Linked DNA regions of Homo sapiens: region 2 is linked to region 1. Evidence: fine-mapped expression QTL. Tissue or cell type: whole blood. Region 1 holds a variant in brackets; the other region holds the start of a gene. All regions are shown on one strand. Distances are between the middles of the regions.

Region 1 (10,240 bases):
ATTAGCCGGGCATGGTGGTGGGCCTGCAATCCCAGCTACTAGGGAGGCTAAGGCATGAGAATCGCTTGAACTCTGAAGGCGGAGGTTGCAGTGAGCCGAGATTGCGCTACTGCACTCCAGCTTGGGTGACAGAGCAAGACTCCATCCCCCCAATCCCCCCACCAAAAAAATACAGCTTCCAGCTGGGCACAGCGGCTTATACCTGTAATCCAAGCATTTTGGGAGGCTGAGGCAGGAGGATCACTTGAACCCAGGAGTTCGAGACTAGCCTGGGCAGCATAGTGAGACCCCACCTCTATTTTAAAAATGTAAACATTAACCAAATGTGGTAATGTGTGCCTGTAGTCCCAGCTACTTGGGAGGCTGAGGCAGGAGGATCGCTTAAGGCTGCAGTGAACTATGATCGTGCCACTGCACTCCAGCCTGGGCGACAGAGTAAGACCCTGTCTCAAAACAAAAAATAAAAAAACAGCTTCCCAGGCCCTGACCTGGGAGATTCTGACCGAGTAGGTCTGGAATAGGAGAAGTAGGAATTTATTTAGGGGGCTGTTATGTCTTTCTAATCTGTCCTTTTAAACTTGCATATAGTCACATCCCTCCACTAAACCCTTTTTTTCCCCAACACTCCCTTTATTGAAATCTCATCAGCTCCTCCCCAAAAACCTCACGATATAGACAGGGTAGGGACGATTAGCCCCTCGACAACTTTTCACAAATATACACACGTTTAACTACTTCTCAGGTCATGATAAAGACCGGCCGGGCAGAAACACTGTAATCCCAGCTACTCGGGAGCCTGAGGCATGAGAATCACTTGAACCTGGGAGGTGGAGGTTGCCATGAGCCGAGATCACGCCATTGCACTACAGCCTTGGCGACAAGAGTGAAACTCCATCTGAAAAAAAACAAAACAAAACATTTCCATTGCCCCAGGAAGTTCCTTCATGCACCGCCTAGTCAATCCTCCTCCCAAGGTAACCACTTGGGAATAAGACTTTTTCCATAAGCACCTCAAGTGATTTTTGTGGCTCGGGGCATTTGGGAAATCGCAAAAGACCTTCCCAGCCTGGACAGTCTGGGGCTGCGTGCTCTAGACCGGGGGCTCCCTAAGGGCAAATACCTGACCCTGTGAGTCCTGCCAGGTACAAGCTGGGGCATACCAGCTGATGCTCCCTGGAGGCACATCAGTTTATTAGGCTGCTTGGTAGAGCCTTGGAGGGTGTCCTTGGAGCAGGCCTGGGAGCTGGGTGGGCTTGGATGGGGAAGGCCCCCGGCTGAGCTGAGGTGGAGAGAGCTTGGCACAGGGGTGTCCCTGGGTAGGTCCCACATGGAGGCCTGTGCAGGGCCTGGCCCAGTACCTGCCATCGATGTGACCTCTTCACCATGGCCAAGTGGACCTCCATTTTCTCACCTGTAAAGGGGGACAGCTCTGTCTCACTCTCAGGGTTGTTAATGAGGACACAGCAGGTCAGGTGTGTCACAGTCAGCACCTGGTGCACCGTAGTTCTTGAATGGGAAACCAATGTTAGACGCCAAAGGAAACAGTTTCGGAGGTGCAGGGACTGACCCAGCAACACACACCTGGGAAGTGGTGGAGCTTGGGCTTGGATCAGATTTGCTGGCTGTGTGACAGCTCACCCAGTGACTTCATTGCTAGGCCTTGGTTTCAAAATGTGGTGACTGAGAGTGGTGCTAAGGCCCTAAGTTTGGGTCACACTCTCACCTAAGTGAGAACCTGACCAAAAAGGGGGAATTTTAAAACAAAATTATGAGCTGGGCGTGGTAGCTCACACCTGTAATCCTAGCACTTTGGGAGGCCGAGGCATGTGGATTGCCTGAGCTCAGGAGTTCAAGAATAGCCTGGGCAACATGGTGAAACCCCGTCTCTACTAAAAAATACAAAAAAATCAGCTGGGCATGGTGGCATGCGCCTGTAGTCCCAGCTACTCAGGAGGCTGAGGCACGAGAATTGCTTGAACCTGGAAGGCGGAGGTTGCAGTGAGCTAAGACCGTGCCACTGCATGCCAGCCTGGGCGACAAAGTGAAACTGTCTCAAAACAAAAACAAAATTATGAGAGGCTGTTGTTTTGGACTAAATGCATACACTAGGCCCCAAGAGACCAGACGAAACCTAAATAGAGTCACTTGTGCTAAATGTGATATCATCAAACTAAAACTTTAAAAAGAACACATAAATGCTAAAACCAGGTTTTGTTTTGTTTTTTTTTCTTGTAAACAGGACATTCCAACATTAAAAAAAATACCCTCTAACCCTTAAAAAAAATAACCTAAAGTCTTTATTCCCACCTTACAAAACCCACTGTCCTACTGTTTCCCAGTGGGTTTCGAGACCAAATAAGTACATTTACAATGGTGATAGTGACATCAGTGACTCGTTTTGGTCAATGTCTCAAAATTTAAAAAATAACTAAAAGAAGGGAATTATTAAATCAAATCTAGCCTAATGCTGCCTTCTTACATATTTTAAGTTCAGCCTAGCAGTTTCTCTACATTGTAAACTATAAGAAATAGAGGTGTAAACAGACTATAGCCTACACTTGTGCCAATCACCAAGTTTTGGGGGTTTTTTTGTTTTTGTTTTTGTTTTTGTTTTTTTTTAAGACAGAGTCTCACTCTGTCGCCCAGGCTGGAGTACAGCATTGTAATCTCAGCTCACTACAACCTCCGCCACCCGGGTTCAAGCGATTCTCCTGCCTCAGCCACCCAAGTAGCTAGGATTACAGGCGCCTGCCACCATGCCCAGCTAATTTTTGTATTTTTAGTAGAGACAGGGTTTCATCATGTTGGCCAGGCCGGTCTCGAACTCCTGACCTCAGGTGATCCACCCTCCTCAGCCTCCCAAAGTGCTGGGATTACAGGAGTGAGCCACCATGCCCAGCCACCAATTACCAAGTTTTAGCCAATCAAATGTCGCCAACTGTTCAAACCGTGTTCAAATGACAAGTGCTAAGCTGTAACCAATCTGACTGCACCTCACTTTCCTTTTCTGTTCATAAATCTTCTTCTACTAAGTGGCTGCGCTGGTTCCTACTCCGGCTCAGGAGGCTGCCTAATTTGCAGATCGTTCATTGCTCAATTAAACTCTTTTAAATTTATTTTTTTATATTTTATTTTATTTTATTTTGAGACAGAGTCTCGCTCTGTTGCCAGGCTGGAGTACAGTGGCACGATCTCAGCTCACTGCAACCTCTAACTCTCTAGTTCAAGCGATTATCCTGCCTCAGCCTCCCGAGTAGCTGGGATTATAGGCACACACCACCATGCCCAGCTAATTTTTGTATTTTTAGTAGACACGGGGTTTCATCATGTTGGCCAGGATGGTCTCGATTTCCTGACCTCGTGATCCACCCACCTCAGCCTCCCAAAGTGCTGGGATTGCAGGCAATTCTTTTAAATTTAATTCAGCTGAAGTTTTTCTTTTATCAATAGGGCTAATAATCCCCACCCTGCCAGTATCACTAGGATGTTGTGAGGATCTGACGCAATTTGAGTTACGGGAATGTTGAGAAAGAAAAGGGCGTAATGGAGTAACGAGATTAGTTTTCCTGTTATGGTGAGGTCAGTGGCCTTTCTGGGGTCAAGAAGAGGGGACTTTCCTTGGCACCAAGAGGGTAAAAGTGTCTCCTCCTGACCTTGGGTATTTTGGACCATGGGATCTGAGGTGTACCAGGAGACAGGAAGTGTGATCAGAAAAGGCCTGGTCTAATGGTGCACAGCTGTGCATATCCAAGTGGCTTGACCTCTCTGGGCCGTTTCTGAATCTGTGAGATGGGAATCATAACCACTCTCCTGACTTCACAGGATGTTTTAGGAGAGATTGGATCTGGGTTGGGGAGACAATTTTGGAAGCAGAAAAGGCCCCTCCGTGCTGGCAACAGCTCGTCCACCTCCAGCCTGTGTGTGCTGCCTCCTGGGTGACTGCTGGCTTTAGGCCAGCGCCTGGCAGGGCTTCACTAAAGCCTCCGTAGGCTGCTGCTATCTCAGTTCTGAGGTACGGGCCGTGGAGACCCCCAGATTTGGGCTTAAATCCCAACTCCACCATTGCACCTCTGAGCCT[C/T]TGTTTCTCTGCAAATGGGGATACTAGTCCCTAGCCCAGATGGGGCCTGGTACACAGTTGGTGCTCAATAAGAGCAGTTCGTCTTCTTCTGAGCATGGGTGCATCCCTCTGGCTGGGGTAAGCACCAACTCAGATTTCTAGGCCCATAGATGGGCTGGAACAGCTGCTGCTGTTAGGGGAAAACCTACTGTGTTACTAGCCAAGGGGTTCCCTTCCATGTTTTTGCCCCACAGGGCACCTGGCACAATGTCTAGCATACAGTAGGTGCTTTGTCCACACTGGCTGGTCAGTTACCTCCAAGCTGACAGAAACTCTGTCCCGTTCCCGACTGTTTCCATAGAACCTAGCACAGAGATACTCAGCAGGTGCTCTGTAGGTGTTTGGGAGTGAGGAATGAATGAACAAAGTTGAATGAACAAGCATCGGGCCCTCCCCCGGGGCTCAAATGGGAGAGAGGAGCTTCGTAGCCTGCTCCCCCTCCCACCCCAGCACCCCGTTTCATCCCTTCTGACTAATCCACAAAGATTAACCCAGGGATAAAGCGGGTCACGGCCACTGACCCAGGGCTTTGGAGCTAGTGTGACCGAGTGTGTGCAGGGCGTGGTGGCTGCTCCCAGGGGCCCTCTTTGCCCCAAGATGGCCCTCCTGTCCCCCATCCTGGATGTGGTCCTCACGGTGGCCCTCAGCCTCCTCCTCCTGGGGCTGATCCTGGGCCTCCTTTGTTTCTTCACTTGCCGCCTGGCCAGGCCGCTCAGGTAGGGGAACTCAGCTGGCCTGACTCCCCCTGCATCCCGCCAAATTCCCTGCCCTAAGCTCGTTCAGCTTCCATTTGTTCTCGTGAGATGGAGCAAGCGGGGCACTCATTTCTCTTACTCTTCATGGTGGGGAAACCAAGGCCCGGAGAGGTTGAGCCCTGGCGTCAGCCTGGGCTTAAATGGCGCATAGTCGAAGACTAGCCAAACCCTCTGTTGGGTTTCCTAAGCTACAAAACGGGGGCTCTTCATCCATATTGTGAGATCAGGGATGTAAACAGCATGGGGCTGAGTGGAACATGAGGGCCTAAGAAATGGTAGTGACACGTTTGTCCCATTCTTCTATCATTTGCCCCAGATCTTCTGAGACCCAGCCCAAGGCTGGCTTTTTGCCCCACTCCAGGATGCTCCCGGGCCCTCTGCCTGGGTTGCTGAATCAGTCCTCAGAGCTAAGGCCTGCCTGGCTCCTCAGCCCCCTGCACTGAACTGCCAAGTAGCTGCTCCTCTGGCGCCACAGCCTAGCCGGGGCTTCTGCACTGGCCATGCGTAATCAGGCTACGGAGGAGCCGGGAGCCTGGCAGAGAAGGGAGGGAGGGGGTGGCGATGGGGCTGACACACACCCGGAGGCCCCATTTTAAGCTGGCAGACATTGGCAGAGGGTGGTGGGCAGCCGGGGCCCCCACAGCCCCAAACTGGGCCCCTCCGCTTCCAGGGCTGCCACAGAGCAGCCAGGAGCCTCTGCGAGGGGGAGGGGTCCTAGGGGTGGGGCCAGCAGGGAGGCTCTGGGTTCTGAAGGCTTTCCCAGGTCCCCACCCTCTCCTTGTCCTGAGCGGAGGCTATGGGAGAAGGCACCTGCCTCCAGGCCAAGCCTATCTCAATGCCTATCCCTGGGGCCAAAATTCAGAGCATCCCAGCCTGAACTGGTGGCACTTATGGAACTGCTACCATGTGCAAGGGCTCGGGATGCAGAGATGGGTAAGATGTTGGTCTTTACGTTCACAGAGCTTCAGGCTAGCAGGGAGGAGAGACAGACCAATAACCGGAAGAATAATCATGTGGGGCTGGATGAGCCTTTCAGTGCTCCCGGGTCACTACACTTTTATTTTTCTTTATTCGCTCACCTGTTTTGGACCCTCAGTGCAGAGAGAGTGGGATACGTTATCTCACTTAGCACATGACATACCCAAATAAGCTCTCAGTTCTTGTTTTGTTTATTCATTTTTTCCTTTGTCCCTGCTCCCTGCCTCCCCACTGCCATTCCCACAGCTCACCGAAGTCCCTATGCTAATGTACTTAATATGGCCTTGGAGTTGTAAGTGTCCTTGTACGTTACACAGCATTCTGTCCGTGGGGGTGGTTTGCACTTACATACACTGCGTTTGATTCTTTACATTCATCACTCAGTCCTCTGCCTTTAGACCCCACCACGCTGCTGTTTGGACATCTAGTTTTAATACCACTGCCACGCAGACATTGCCTCCACCACTCCTTACTAATTCATTTCCCTAGTTGTGGACGAGACTGCCCCGGCTCCTCACCATCATAAGCCAGTGTTAAAAGGAGTTTGCCAAAGCTTTCTCCAGCGAGTATGATGGTTTCTGCAGGTTCTTGGCATAAAGCCTTTATCAGATTAAGGAAATTCTTTTCAATACCTGGTTTGCTGAGGGCTTCTGTCACATCGTTTTCTGTGACCCCATTCCCTCTCCCTAGGTGAGCACGTCAAGTTTGATCAGGGTGTTAACTGCCACCCCTGTGCCTATGATTCCCAAATTTATACTCTAACCCAGACTTCTTTTTCAAATGCCAGAGCCAAATATTCAGCTGCCTCCTTAGTGTCTCCACTTCTAAAAGACATCTCCAACTCAACATATCCAAAAACAAGTTCCTGATTGTCTCCACCTCACGCCTCAAAAGACCACCCCAAACGCCGAAAGGCTGAATGCTTTTTTCTTTTTCTTTTTTTTTTTTTTCTGAGATGGAGTCTCACTCTGTTGCCCAGGCTGGACTGCAGTGATGCGATCTCAGCTCACTGCAAACTCTGCTTCCTGGGTTCAAGTGATTCTCCTGCCTCAGCCTCTCAGGTAGCTGGGACTACAGGTGCACACCACCATGCCCAGCTAATTTTTGTAGAGAGAGTTTCACCATGTTGGCCAGGCTGGTCTCAAACACCTGACCTTAAGGGATCCACCCGCCTCAGCCTCTCAAAGTGCTGGGATTACAGGTGTGAGCCATCGCACTTGGCTCGGTAGTATATGGCTCAGAAACATTGCCATTTACAATAGTTCCCCAAAAAGCAAAATTCTTAGGTATAAATCTGGATTCAGAGTCCAGAATGCTAACCATTACACGATGGAACCCGTAGGTATAAATCTAAGAAAACATATCCAAGATCTACAGGCTGAAGACTACAGAGTGCTGATAAAACCGAAGAACTCTGACTGAATGAGTGGAGAGACGTGGTGTCTTCATGACTGGGCAACTCCATGTGGTATAGACGTAAACCCTCCCACATTGATCTGTGGATTTAATACCATACCTATCAAAAACACAGTGGTGGAGGACAGATCAGGGATCGCCAGGTTTAGGGATGGGGGGATTGTGTAACTATAAAGAACGCAAGAGAGATTTTTGGGGTGGCAGAGCTGTTCTGGGTCCTGACGGTGGCGGTGGTGGTTACATAAATCTATCCATGTGTCAAACGTCAGAACACTCATTTTACACTTGGGGGCAACAGAAATCCCTCCCTCTGGAGGGGGTGACTGATGGTAACCTGATTGCTAATTCTGGAATCAGGAGCCCTGTGGTCAGGTTTCTGCTCTGCAACTTCCTGTTGGTAACCTTGGGCAAGTCTCCGTCCAGAGCCTTGGTTTTCTCATCTGTAAAAGGAGATGATAGGTCCTTTTCTGTCCACTGCATAGCTGATTAGTGAAACATCATGGTGAAATTCTTTATGAACTATGGAGTGCAGCACATAGACTTGCTTTCATTTTGTCAGTATCCTTTATAGATTGTTCATGTAAGCTCCCAAAGAGTAGTATTTATTTTATTGAAATAAAATGCACGTAGAGAAAAATGTGTGTATCATACATTGACAGCTGAACCCACCGTGTAACCAGCACCCACCCACCCAGATCAATCATAAACCGAACCGCACCAGCACCCCAGCAGCCCGTTCCCGTTTCCGTACCCTCCACGTGGAGCCTCCGTTCTGTCTCCCAACGCCCTGGGTTAGTTTTTATACTTTCTGTCATCGGAATCACACTGTAAGTGCTCTTGGGTTTAGCTTCCTTTGCTCAAGCTTACCTTGTGCGATTCATTCATGTTGTTGTGAGGAGCTGTGGATCATCCATTCTCCTTGCTGTCTGTGGTGGTTTCTGTGTTGTGAACACACACAATGTATTATCCAGCCTGCCGTAGATGGAGGCAGTTTTGAAGCCATTATAAACAGGGCTGATGTGCACATTCTGCTGGAGAGAAACGGGTCCCAGGGTACAGGTAGGATGATCAGCTTCGGTAGATCCTGCCGGTTTTCCCATGCGCTGTGCCTGTCTGCACTCCACCAACGGCGAGCGGACCTTCCGGTAGTTAAACATCTTCACGAACTCTTGGACTTTCCTGCACACACAGAGAAGATAATTTTGGATGGCTCTTCCCTTCCCCCCACAACCTTCCTTAGGGCACTGGCTTTCAACTGATGTAAATATTTACTATGCCAAGCACTAGGAGGGCAGAGACAAACAAGACAAAGTCCTCACACTTAGAAACTCCCGGTGTGGCAGCTGAGATGGCCCAGGAAAGAACTATATTACCTTCAAAAAGAGAGGTACATGCGATGTTTGAGGTGGCATGAAGCTCAGTGGTGTTATATTGGAATGAGTGAGTGACCATCCTGGAGCCTTCCTGAAAGAGGTGACTTCATTTTTAAGTGATTTTAAATAATAGTTTAATGAATTAGTATTTCGTATTCAGTTAATAACATTTTTCTGATTTTAGGATTTGCTATAGAAATATTTGGAAACCGTAAAGTAGAACAAAAAAAAAAATGTAGGAATCATCTGAAATTCCAAATTCTACCACTCACAGTTAAGTGTTGTTAGATGTTAGATGTGGGATATTGCCTTTTAATTTCCACTCTGCGCCGCTACCCCCAGCCCCTACCCCAGAGCCGTCACTTCTGGCACTGGAGCGCAGCTTGCGTGGTTTTTTTTTTTTTTTTTTTTTTTTTTGAGACAGAGTCTCGCTGTCGCCCAGGCTGGAGTGCAGTGGCGCGATCTCGGCTCACTGCAAGCTCCGCCTCCCGGGTTCACGCCATTCTCCTGCCTCAGCCTCCTGAGTAGCTGGGACTACAGGCGCCCGCTACCTCTCCCGGCTAATTTTTTGTATTTTTAGTAGAGACGGGGTTTCACTGTGTTAGCCAGGATGGTCTCGATCTCCTGACTTCGTGATCCGCCCGCCTCGGCCTCCCAAAGTGCTGGGATTACAGGCGTGAGCCACCGCGCCCGGCCATTTGCGTGTTTTTAAGGTTGAATCAAGATCCTTCTTCTGGTGGTAGTGGTTTCTTTTTCTCCCTTCCCTTCCCTTCCCTTTCCTCCCCTTCCCTTTCCTCCCTCCCCTCCCCTCCCCTCCCTCCTTCCTTTTCTCCTTTTCTTTTTCTCTATTTTTAAATTAAAAAAAAAAATCTTGGATGGGCGCGGCAGCTCACACCTGTAATCCCAGCACTTTGGGAGGCCAAGGTGGGCAGATCACCTGAGGTCGGGAGTTCGAGACCAGCCTGACCAACATGGACCCCATCTCTACTAAAAATACAAAATTGGCCGGGCATGGTGGCGCAAGCCTGTAATCCCAGCCACTCGGGAGGCTGAGGCAGGAAAATTGCTTGAACCCGGGGGGCGGAGGTTGCAGTGAGCCGAGGTTGTGCCATTGCACTCCAGCCTGGGCAACAAGAACAAAACTCCGTCTCAAAAAAAAAAAAAAGAAAAAGAAAAAATCTTTTTCCTTTGAGCTGGAGCTGCAAAGAGAAGAATTTTTAAAAAGAAAAGAAACTTTTAAAAAATTAAAATACAAAAATTTTTCTTAGAGACAGGGTCTCGCTGTGTTGCCCAGGCTGGTCTCCAACTCCAGGCCTGAAGCGAACTTCCTCCAGCCTCAGCTTCCCAAGTAGCTGGGATTACAGGCATGTTACCACCATGCCTGGCTTTTTTTCTTTAAACAACTTTTAAAAAATGTTTTATTTTGTTTTTACTTAACATATAATAATTGGACTAGAGTGGTGTCTTATCTGTCACAACACTTTTCTAACGGTAGAGTGTGTATTACTGCTGTTTCCCACAACAAATGGTGTCATATCTTGGTTTTGGCTGAAGCAATAACATTTCCCAGTGAAACTCTTGCCACTTAAAATTCTTTGTCT
Region 2 (8,913 bases), 38 kb before region 1:
TGAATAAGGTTGCCAAGTCTGCCTGGGATAACAGCCTGCTCACTGGAAAGGTGACGATGACAACAGTGATGGTGCTTTGGTGTTGCAGGGAGGAGCAAGTTAAATCTCACCTATAAAGATCTTTCCATCAGGCTGCAGACACAGAGGGAGTCCCCAGCAACAATAGCTCATATATGCTTCAGTTTCCTCATCCGTGAAGAGAGAATAAAAGTCCCTACTTTTATTAGCGTCCAATTGCCCTGGCCACGGCAGCATTGTCGGTTTAATGATGCTGCTTCGGCTGTCGTAGTCTCTTCCACCTCATGCCTTTTGGTTCATTTTTTAACTGAGTTAAAGGTGGGGCTGTAGGTGGCACTGGGAATCAAATGGCTGAACTTGTGCTCAGGCCTGGGCTTGAGATAAAATGACCCCTTTAGTCCAAGCATCAAAACAGACCAAGGTTTCAGGCCCCCTTGCCTTTAAATAGATTTCAGGGATTATTTTCTCCAGCCCTAGACCACAGCTGACTCCTCACCGCCTCTCCACGAACAGACCTCAGAGTTTTGTTTTCTCTGTCTCTCTCCTTTCTTTCTCCTTTATCTCTGTCTACTGAGGTCCTGGCTGTCCCCCTGCCCCACCCTACCCTATGCTCTTGGGCTTCTGGCCTCATCTCTAACTTAGCTTCTAATTTTTTCTCTTCTTTTCCTTTCTTTTTTTGAAACAGAGTCTCACTCTGTCACCCAGGCTGGAGTGTAGTGGCGTGATCTCAGCTCACTGCAACCTCTGCCTCCAGGGTTCAAGCGTTTCTCGTGCCTCAGCCTCCCAAGTAGCTGGGACTACAGGTGTGCGTCACCTTGCTCGGCTAATTTTTATGTTTTCAGTAGAGACGGGGTTTCACCGTGTTGGCCAGGCTGGTCTCAAACTCCGGACCTCAGGTGATCCACCTGCCTAGCCTCCCAAAGTGCTGGGATTACAGGCATGAGCCACCACGCCCGGCCTAACTTAGCTTCTAATTCTAATGCCTGGTGAACCTCTTAAATTTTTTTTTCCCAAGACAAAGTCTCACTCTGTTGGCCAGGCTGGAGTGCAGGGGTGTGATCATAGCTCACTGCAGACTCTAACTCCTGGACACAAGAGACCCTCCCATCTTGGCCTCCCAAAGTGCTGGGATTACAGGCGTGAGCCACCATGCCTGGCCTGCCTAGTGAACTTGAAGGTCTAGCTTGCGGCACAGGCTCATGGCATGCACTTAACAGATACGGAATAAATGGATGAATGGAAAAAGCCCTGGACTGGGAATAGTAAACCTGGTAACCAAACCCAGCTCTGACCCTGACCTGTAAGTAACTACTATCTCTGGCCTTGGTGTACCCCATGTATAGTGGGGATTGTAAACACCTGCCCTGCCCACCTTATGATACTGCTGTGAGACTCAAAAGACATCATTAGCTCTTAGGCACAGGGAGCTTGGAGGTTAAATCCAATTTGTTTAGTTTTCAACAAGGAAGTGGTGCCCCAGGGACAATGATGGAGAGAAATCGAATGTAATGAGCTGTTGCCACCAGCTGAGTGGTCCTGAAATCATGGCATCTGGGTTGCACTTAGAGATTGTCCAGTTCAAAAGGCCAGAAGGAATCTGAACCTCGATGGGAAAAGTGACTTGCTCAGCTCCCCAGCAAGCCAGGGCAGAGCTGGAGGATGGACTGGAGTCTCCTGGTTCCAGGTCCAGGACTTCTTTCCGCTGTGTTGACAGAGCCAGGAGGAGGGGCACCCGGGGAGCAGGGGAGGCAAGGGCTGCTGGATGCCCCATCTCAGTTGAATTCTCCTTGAGGGACCCAGCCCAGGAGCAGAGTAAGAGGGTTTGAGGGTGGAAGGTGGCAGGGCTGGCCAAGCAGTATAGTCCCTGCTGCTGATAACCAATCCCTGAAATCCCGAGGTGGAGGGACTTGAGGGCAAATCACAGACATGGGGGACCTAATGCTGGCCATGTGGCTCAACCAGAAGTGCCCGTCCCTCATAGCTTTGGGGAGATCAGAAGTCAGGGATAGGGTCGGGTGTGGTGGCTCATGCCTGTAATCCCATCACTTTGGGATAAGGAGGCAGGGGGATCACTTGAGCTTAGGAGTTCGAGACCAGCCTGAGCAACATAGCAAAACCCTGTTCTTTACAAAAAAATACAAAAATTAGCCGGGCGTGGTGGTGCACACCTGTAGTCCTGGCTGCTGGGGAGGCTGAGGTGGGAAGATCACTTGAGCCCGGGAGGTCGAGGCTGCAGTGAGCTGACATCATGCTACTGCATTCCAGCCTAGGCAATAGAGTGGGACCCTGTCTCAAAAAAAAAAAAAAAAAAAAGTCAGGGGTGCTGGCCCCATGATAGGTGCAATGGGTGCCTCCAATTCCCTCTGGCTCTGCCTCCCAGCCTCTGTCCAAGCAACAGGCAGATTTTCCATGCCTGGGGACTTGCCCCTGGCTCACTGATGATGATACCATCTTAAGTCTCCTGGAATCCTTAAACCCTTCCTTGGCATTTGTGAGCAAGTATTGAGCCCCTCCCATGTTTTAGGCCCAGTGCTGGGTGCTTTCACCTGCAATTTCTTACAGAGGATGGTATTTCCTAAACTCCATTCATTTGCTACCTCCATGATTTTTGCCATATCACCCAACCCATGAAATACATAAATAAATAGTATTTACTCAATATTTTGACTCACTTTTAAAAAACATAAACTTATCTGAAAAGGGAACCTATGTCACGCCTCTAAATAAACAGTATCAACCAAAAATACAAAAGAAACAAAAATAAATACAAAGACATTCTTGGTTTCTGGCACCAGGCCCCAGTTCTGGCTCCAACCTTACTGAGAAGTCACATGATCTCTCTGGGCCTCAGTTTTCTCCTCTGGAAAATGGAGCTTTTGGAAGTTAATGCATGCACAGTGCCTGGCCCTGAGACTGGCATGGAGTGAGTGGAAGAGAGGTTGCCTGACCTGGCTAAAATTGGTTCTCTGGGCAGACATTTTCCCAAGGGCCACTGAGAAGACCCTCCTGTTAGGAGTCAGTGAGCTCTGTCGCTGGAGGCATTCAAACAGAGCCTGCGGACTTCTCACTGCGAAGTTGCCCAGAGAATTCAGTGCTCAGAGGAAAGGGAGTGGTTATTCCATCAGAGCTGGTTCCCCAGGAGCGGGAGCAGGGCCTGTAGCACCCAGCCTCTGTCCCTGGCTCCCGTCTATCCGGGATTTTAGCGTTTCCTCTGTAGTTTTCAAGCACTGTCTCATATGACTCTCGCACCAGCGAGAGGCCAGGGGAGATGGTGTCTGCCTGTTAAAGAGGGGCAGGCTGGTCCACATAGGTCAAGTGACTTGGCCAAGGTCACCAGAGCAGAGTTTTGAACTTGAGCTGTCTGACTCAACTGCCTGGGAAGTGCCTGCCCCTCCTCTGGCATCCAGGGAGCATGTCCTGGGGCTCTGGCTGGGACATAGCCGGACACCTGCGGGCCCTTTACGTCTCTAAAGAGAGAAAGAGGGAAGGGCCCCTGTCTAGGGGGTGGTTTCCCTCCAGATGCCACCCCTCCGAGGTCCCCTTCTGCTTCTTCTTGCGGTAGCCAGGGAGGCAGCCCACGGGCAGGGAAGCGGGGGTGGGGGTGCAGAGTCAGAGGTGCACGTGGACAGAGACAGAGAGACAGGGACACGTGGGCAGAGACGGATAAAGACAGAGACCCAGAGAAAGCCAGATATGTTGACAGACACAGAGACAGACGCCAGAGAGGAAGGCAGACAAAGAGACGGGTGGAGACAAAGACTCCCACCAAGAGACGCAGAAGGAAGATGCCGACGGTAAAGACAAAACAGGAGACGCGCGCAAGGAGCAGGTCAGAGCCCAGGCTCGCTGAGAGAGGAAGGGCTGGGCTGGGGCAGCCCGGAGGCAGAGAGACCGAGAGTGCGGGGCGGGCGAGGGACGCCAGGGCCGCGTCACCCCAGCCCGTTCCTAGCTCCGCTCCCGGCAGGGGGCGCCCTGGCCTCGTGGCACGACCGGCCCGCGGGGCGCGGGGCTCGGGCCGGGGGCGGGGCCGGGGCCGGGCTGGGGAGGGGTTGGGGCCGGGGGCGGGGGAGGGGGCGGGCTGCCCGGGCCTCACTCGGGCCCCGCGGCCGCCTTTATAAGGCGGCGGGGGTGGTGGCCCGGGCCGCGTTGCGCTCCCGCCACTCCGCGCCCGCTATCCTGGCTCCGTGCTCCCACGCGCTTGTGCCTGGACGGACCCTCGCCAGTGCTCTGCGCAGGTAAGGATTCGACGCTGCCCCGCGCCCTGGTTCCCCAGGGCCCCAGCGGACGTGGTCCATCCCCTTCTGCATCCTCCGCTGGCCCCGTGGTTGAACTTTAATGGCAGGGCCGGGGTCTCCAGCGCCACGCCGCCCACAGCAGCCCATTCGGGACGCCCTGCAATTGGTCCTGCCCCTGTCCTCCCGCGCATCCCAAGCTCCCGGCGCGCGCTCTGGGCGGGACAGGAGATTGGACGTGGCGCCCGCGGAGCCGGCGAACTCAGGGGACCGCGCTCGGGACCGCCCTGCAGTCCCAGGGTCTCCTACCTCCCGAGCCGCTGCCTGGGACCCTGCGCTCTGTCTGGGCACCTGCCCTTGGTGCCCCGTGACTGAGCCCCTCCTGGTGCCTCCTTAGCCGTAGCTCTAGAGACCTGGGCTGCCAACCCCAAGGCCTCGTGGCCTGGCGCCCTCCCAGGCGTCCCACCTGACCCGGTGGGGTCTAAAGCAGTTTGGTTTGGGAGGAGGAGAGGGCAGGAGGCGCTTGGAATGGGGGGCGTGGCGGGAGGAGACAGAGGACACCCGCGTGGGTGTCAAAGTGTGGGCACCCACTGTGGGCACCGCAGCTGTGGGGCAAAGCTCTGGAGCCCGCGAAGCCGAAGGAGCCTGCCGCCCCCTTTAGGCTTTGCGAGGTGGGCCTCCCAGGGCTGCTTCCCTGCCCAGTCTTGGTAAGAAAGGGTTAAACGCAGGTCTCAGCAGAAAGGCAGGAGGCCGAGGAAAGCCTCCCCCACTCCCCATTGTGCCTTATGACTCTTTTTCAACACATAATGGGGTCGAAGGCGGGGCCTTTACAAAGGCCTCTGGGTGGAGGGTGAAATTCCTTGAGATCAAAAGAGGGGGCGATTCTTGGGCCAGGAAGGGCTTTGGGCCCTGGGAAAAAGTCAGACCGCTCAGGTGGGCCCAGCTGCCCAGGGAGGCAGGGGTTGGGTCCCAGCCTCAGTGTAGATACTGCAACTGTTTTTTGAAGGCCTACCGTGCGTAGAGGGACCTGCTCTGACATCTCATGTACATCATTTCATTTTACAAATGGGGAAACTGAGGCTTAGACAATTTAAGTAAGTGGTGGGACCAGGGTTTGAATCCAGACTCCAAACTCTGCAGCCCTAGCGTCCTGCTCCCACTGTGTTGCCTAAGAGATAGGGGGCTGAGCCTTGGTTTTGTCTTCCGGCTCCTCCTGGGCTCAGCCCGCTCTTCCTCCACTCTCCAGTCTTGCTCTTTCCAACTGTTTAGTCCTCCCCACCTGTGGGTGTCCCCACGCTGTCCTGCCCCAGCCATCCCACTCCCTGGCCCCATGCATCTTGTTCCTGTGTCACCTTTTTCTTTCTTTAACTGAATACCTGTGAATTCCCTCAGAAGAGGCCCCTGGACACAGCTTCTCAACATCCCAACTGGTGAAGACTAGGCTGAGTGATGATCCCGGTCCATGTGCCCATTTGTAAAAAGGGGTGTATTCCCCTTTCGGGACTATTGTGAGGAATAAAACTGAACTGAGGCCAGAACAAGATGCTATCTTCATTCAGCAAATACTTAAGCATCCGCCGTGTGCCAAGCTCTGTTCTAGGTGCCGGGAATGCCACAGTAAATCAGCCAAAAGCCCTCTTCTGGATTGGATGTTTGCATAACAAAATTCTTTCAGGCTTTGAAACTGTCAGAATTCACAGTGTAGACTTGAAATCAAGCTATTCATAAGGAAGGAGATTAAGACGCAATCACCTGTAAAATGGATTGGCCAACCTTTGGCCCTCACTTTAGCAAAGGCAGCCTTGCTGTGGGACCTGGGATCAGTTCTGTTCCCTCTCTGTGCCTCGGCCTCCTCCCATAAGCTGTGGAGATCAATAGTGCCTACCAGTGGTGAGGTCTAGATATGATGAATGCTTGCGAAGGGTTTAAGCTGGTACCTGTGCTTAAGAAAATCCTGGCTATCCTCAGCTCTCTTCTCAGCAGAAAATGCAATGCGGAGACTGGAAGTTGGGTTATGTGCCTACCCTGCCTCTGAACCTGTTACCCACTTCTGCCCAGGCCCTTCCCATCCTGTTGGGCTACACATGTGGGGTGGCATGGTGCCCTCTTTGCTCACACTCAGATGCCACCTTCTGTCGCCATCCTAAACACAGCCTGGGCTGGGAGCGCAGAGCTCCATGATGAGATCAGCCCTGGAGCCATCATCTCTGCAGCGCTTCCTGCCCTCTGCCTGTTCTTGTGCCTCACCGTGTCCTAGCTCAGGACCAAACTCAGCCCTGTTCTGTCCCATGACTTACATACCCAACATTCCCTGCAAGCTGGATATGATCTTGGAAAGGGGAAGTGAGTTGCCCAGAGGCACACAGATGCTACCTGAGGAGCTGGGGCTGGAGCCTGCGTATCTAGAATTCCAAATCTAGCAATCTCCATGCTGTACCCATCTCTGGGCATATGAGGCCTTTTAATCCAGGGAGTAGGATCCAGTAGCAGAGCCCGAGTTCTCACCTTGAAATCAGTCTGACTTGGCTTTTTAATACAAAACCCAGAGCTCTGAGAGAACATTGCTGGGAGAGTGAGCAAGCTGGGCTGAGAACCAGCACTCAGAAATCTCCATGTGGCCACAGGAATGCTGACTTGGCTTCCCAGCACCATGTCGTCGTCCTTGGCAGGCTGGAGCTGGGCTTTGTGGTATGTTAGATTTGTTTTTTTTCTTCTGGAGATGTCCTCACTTTCAGAGGGCAGTTAGGGGCAGTAGACTGAAGGTTCATTCCCAGCACTGCCATGCGACCCTGGACAAGTCACCTTCCCTTTCGAAGCCTCAGTTTTCTCATCTGCAATATGGGTTAAAATTATATACTTTGCAGGGTCGCAAGATCATAAATGGTTTTCCAACTTTGGGCTGAACCAGCATTGATGTTATTAAGACATTCATATTTCCTGTGGAGCAATTTCAAAAGCAGTTAACTTTATCCCTACCAGGTGATCCTGAGGGCCTGAGGGAAGTCCACGTTTAGGTCACAAAAGCCTACACAGCAGGGAAAACACTGGTTTGGGGGCTGGTGTCTTGGATTCCAATCGCCAGCTGTGTGACCTGAGGCAAGTCACTTTACCTCTCTGAGTGTCAAGCTCATAGGAGGCCCCCAACATCAAGATATGATGCTCAGTGTCTGAAGAACATAGTCTCCGTATTTTTCTGCCTCCTTGTACCAGCTCCCAACCCCCCCGCCAACACTTCGTTAATTGCTCCCAGAAAAACTCTATGCTTAAAGTTTTCCATGCTTAAATTCTCAGCCTCACTGTGGCATGAAATCAATTGTTTGCATTGAATTTGACTTCTCAAATTAAGGGGTAAAATTTGAGATGAGAGTAGGGGGTTAGGGAGGAGATGAGGACGAAGTTAAACCAGATGTGCTTTTGTTTAATTGTAGGATGGTGGTTAAGCTGCTCAAGTATTACCATCGTTCTTTCTGAATTCCAGTAACCAGGAGTCAGGTTTCACAAAAAGTCGTAGTGTTCTTTCCTGGCTGGTGTGGACTCGCCCTCTCTATTATTATTATTATTATTATTATTACTATTTTGTATTCATCTGAGGCCACAGAGTACTGGCCAGAGAGGAGACATAGATCCCCAGAATTTCAGTTGGAAGGCCTTTAGAAGCTGGCTCGGTCAACTGGGCTCTTGGTGCACCAGGGAGACTGAGGCCCAGAGAGGAGAAGAGGCTTGCCCAGGGTCACACAATTGCTTAGGGCAGAGTGGACTGGGAATTCAGTCTCCTGGCCTTAAGCTACATGATCTTTCCAAAGGCAACCACTCTCCTGAATTTGGTGTGTTTCATTTCTACAGTATATTCTTAGCATATCTGTTTTTTGAAAATCATTGTTTAAGGGAGGATGCAGATGATGTGGGTTGGTGGAAAAAGATATTAAGCTCAGGAGAGCTGAGCTGAAGTCCTTGAATACCTCTGTGACCTTGGGCAAGTCACTTCCCCTGTCTGAGTCTCAGATTCTTCATCTGTAAACCAATATATCTGAGGAGTAGGAGTGGAGAGATGAGACTTCCCTAAGACTTGGAATGGGTCTAATGTATTCAACTGGTCCTCAGATATTTATAGCCTGCTGTGTGCTGGGTTATGGGAGATCCATCACAAACTGCCTTCCTAAGGCTGCAGGGGGTGGGGGATTGTTGACTTTTGCGGTGATTAAACAACTTTTATTTAGTTGCTGGTGTTTTTAAACCAGGCAATTTCATTTTATATAAAGATAAGGATTTCTGGCTTCTCTTGAAAGATCAGAAGATGTGGCCATATGGGGCTATGTCCCTGCCTGGCCACAGTGGCTGGAGCTGATTAGCAGCTGCTCCATCCACTTTACCACAGTCTCCACCACGCCCCACTGCCTCACACTTGCCCACCTGCCTCCCTGACATTACCTACCTACCTTCTGAGCTTGCGGTTTCTGGGCTAGATGCAGTGAGGCCATGTAAGAGGGGCTCAAATTCCACTTGAATGATTGTGTGGGGCTTGGGCCAGCCCTCAGGGGGCTCAGGGTGAGAATATGGGACACGTGGACACTAGCCCCTCTTCCATAGCCTGGCAACATCTACAAAACATGTCAGCTAGGCGAAGGAGCTTTTTTCCTGCTTCGGTGGTCCTCAGGAAGAGTCT

What was found. PIP is the estimated chance that this variant, and not a neighbour inherited with it, causes the effect.
Region 2: ALPL starts here. The variant in region 1 is fine-mapped to the expression of ALPL in whole blood (INTERVAL, PIP 0.96).

What each region holds. Positions count from the first base shown.
Region 1 is chr1:21,542,690-21,552,929 of GRCh38, forward strand. All of the region lies in intron 1 of ALPL (alkaline phosphatase, biomineralization associated), which reads left to right. Among named protein-coding and RNA genes, the nearest start is that of ALPL, 38 kb to the left of the region's middle. The variant C/T (reference allele first, on the strand shown) is at 4,079.
Region 2 is chr1:21,505,265-21,514,177 of GRCh38, forward strand. ALPL (alkaline phosphatase, biomineralization associated) reads left to right here and starts at 4,159. Exons shown (of 12, transcript NM_000478.6): 1 at 4,159-4,253. RefSeq lists a silencer at 3,967-4,066 and enhancers at 4,102-4,672, 4,673-5,242.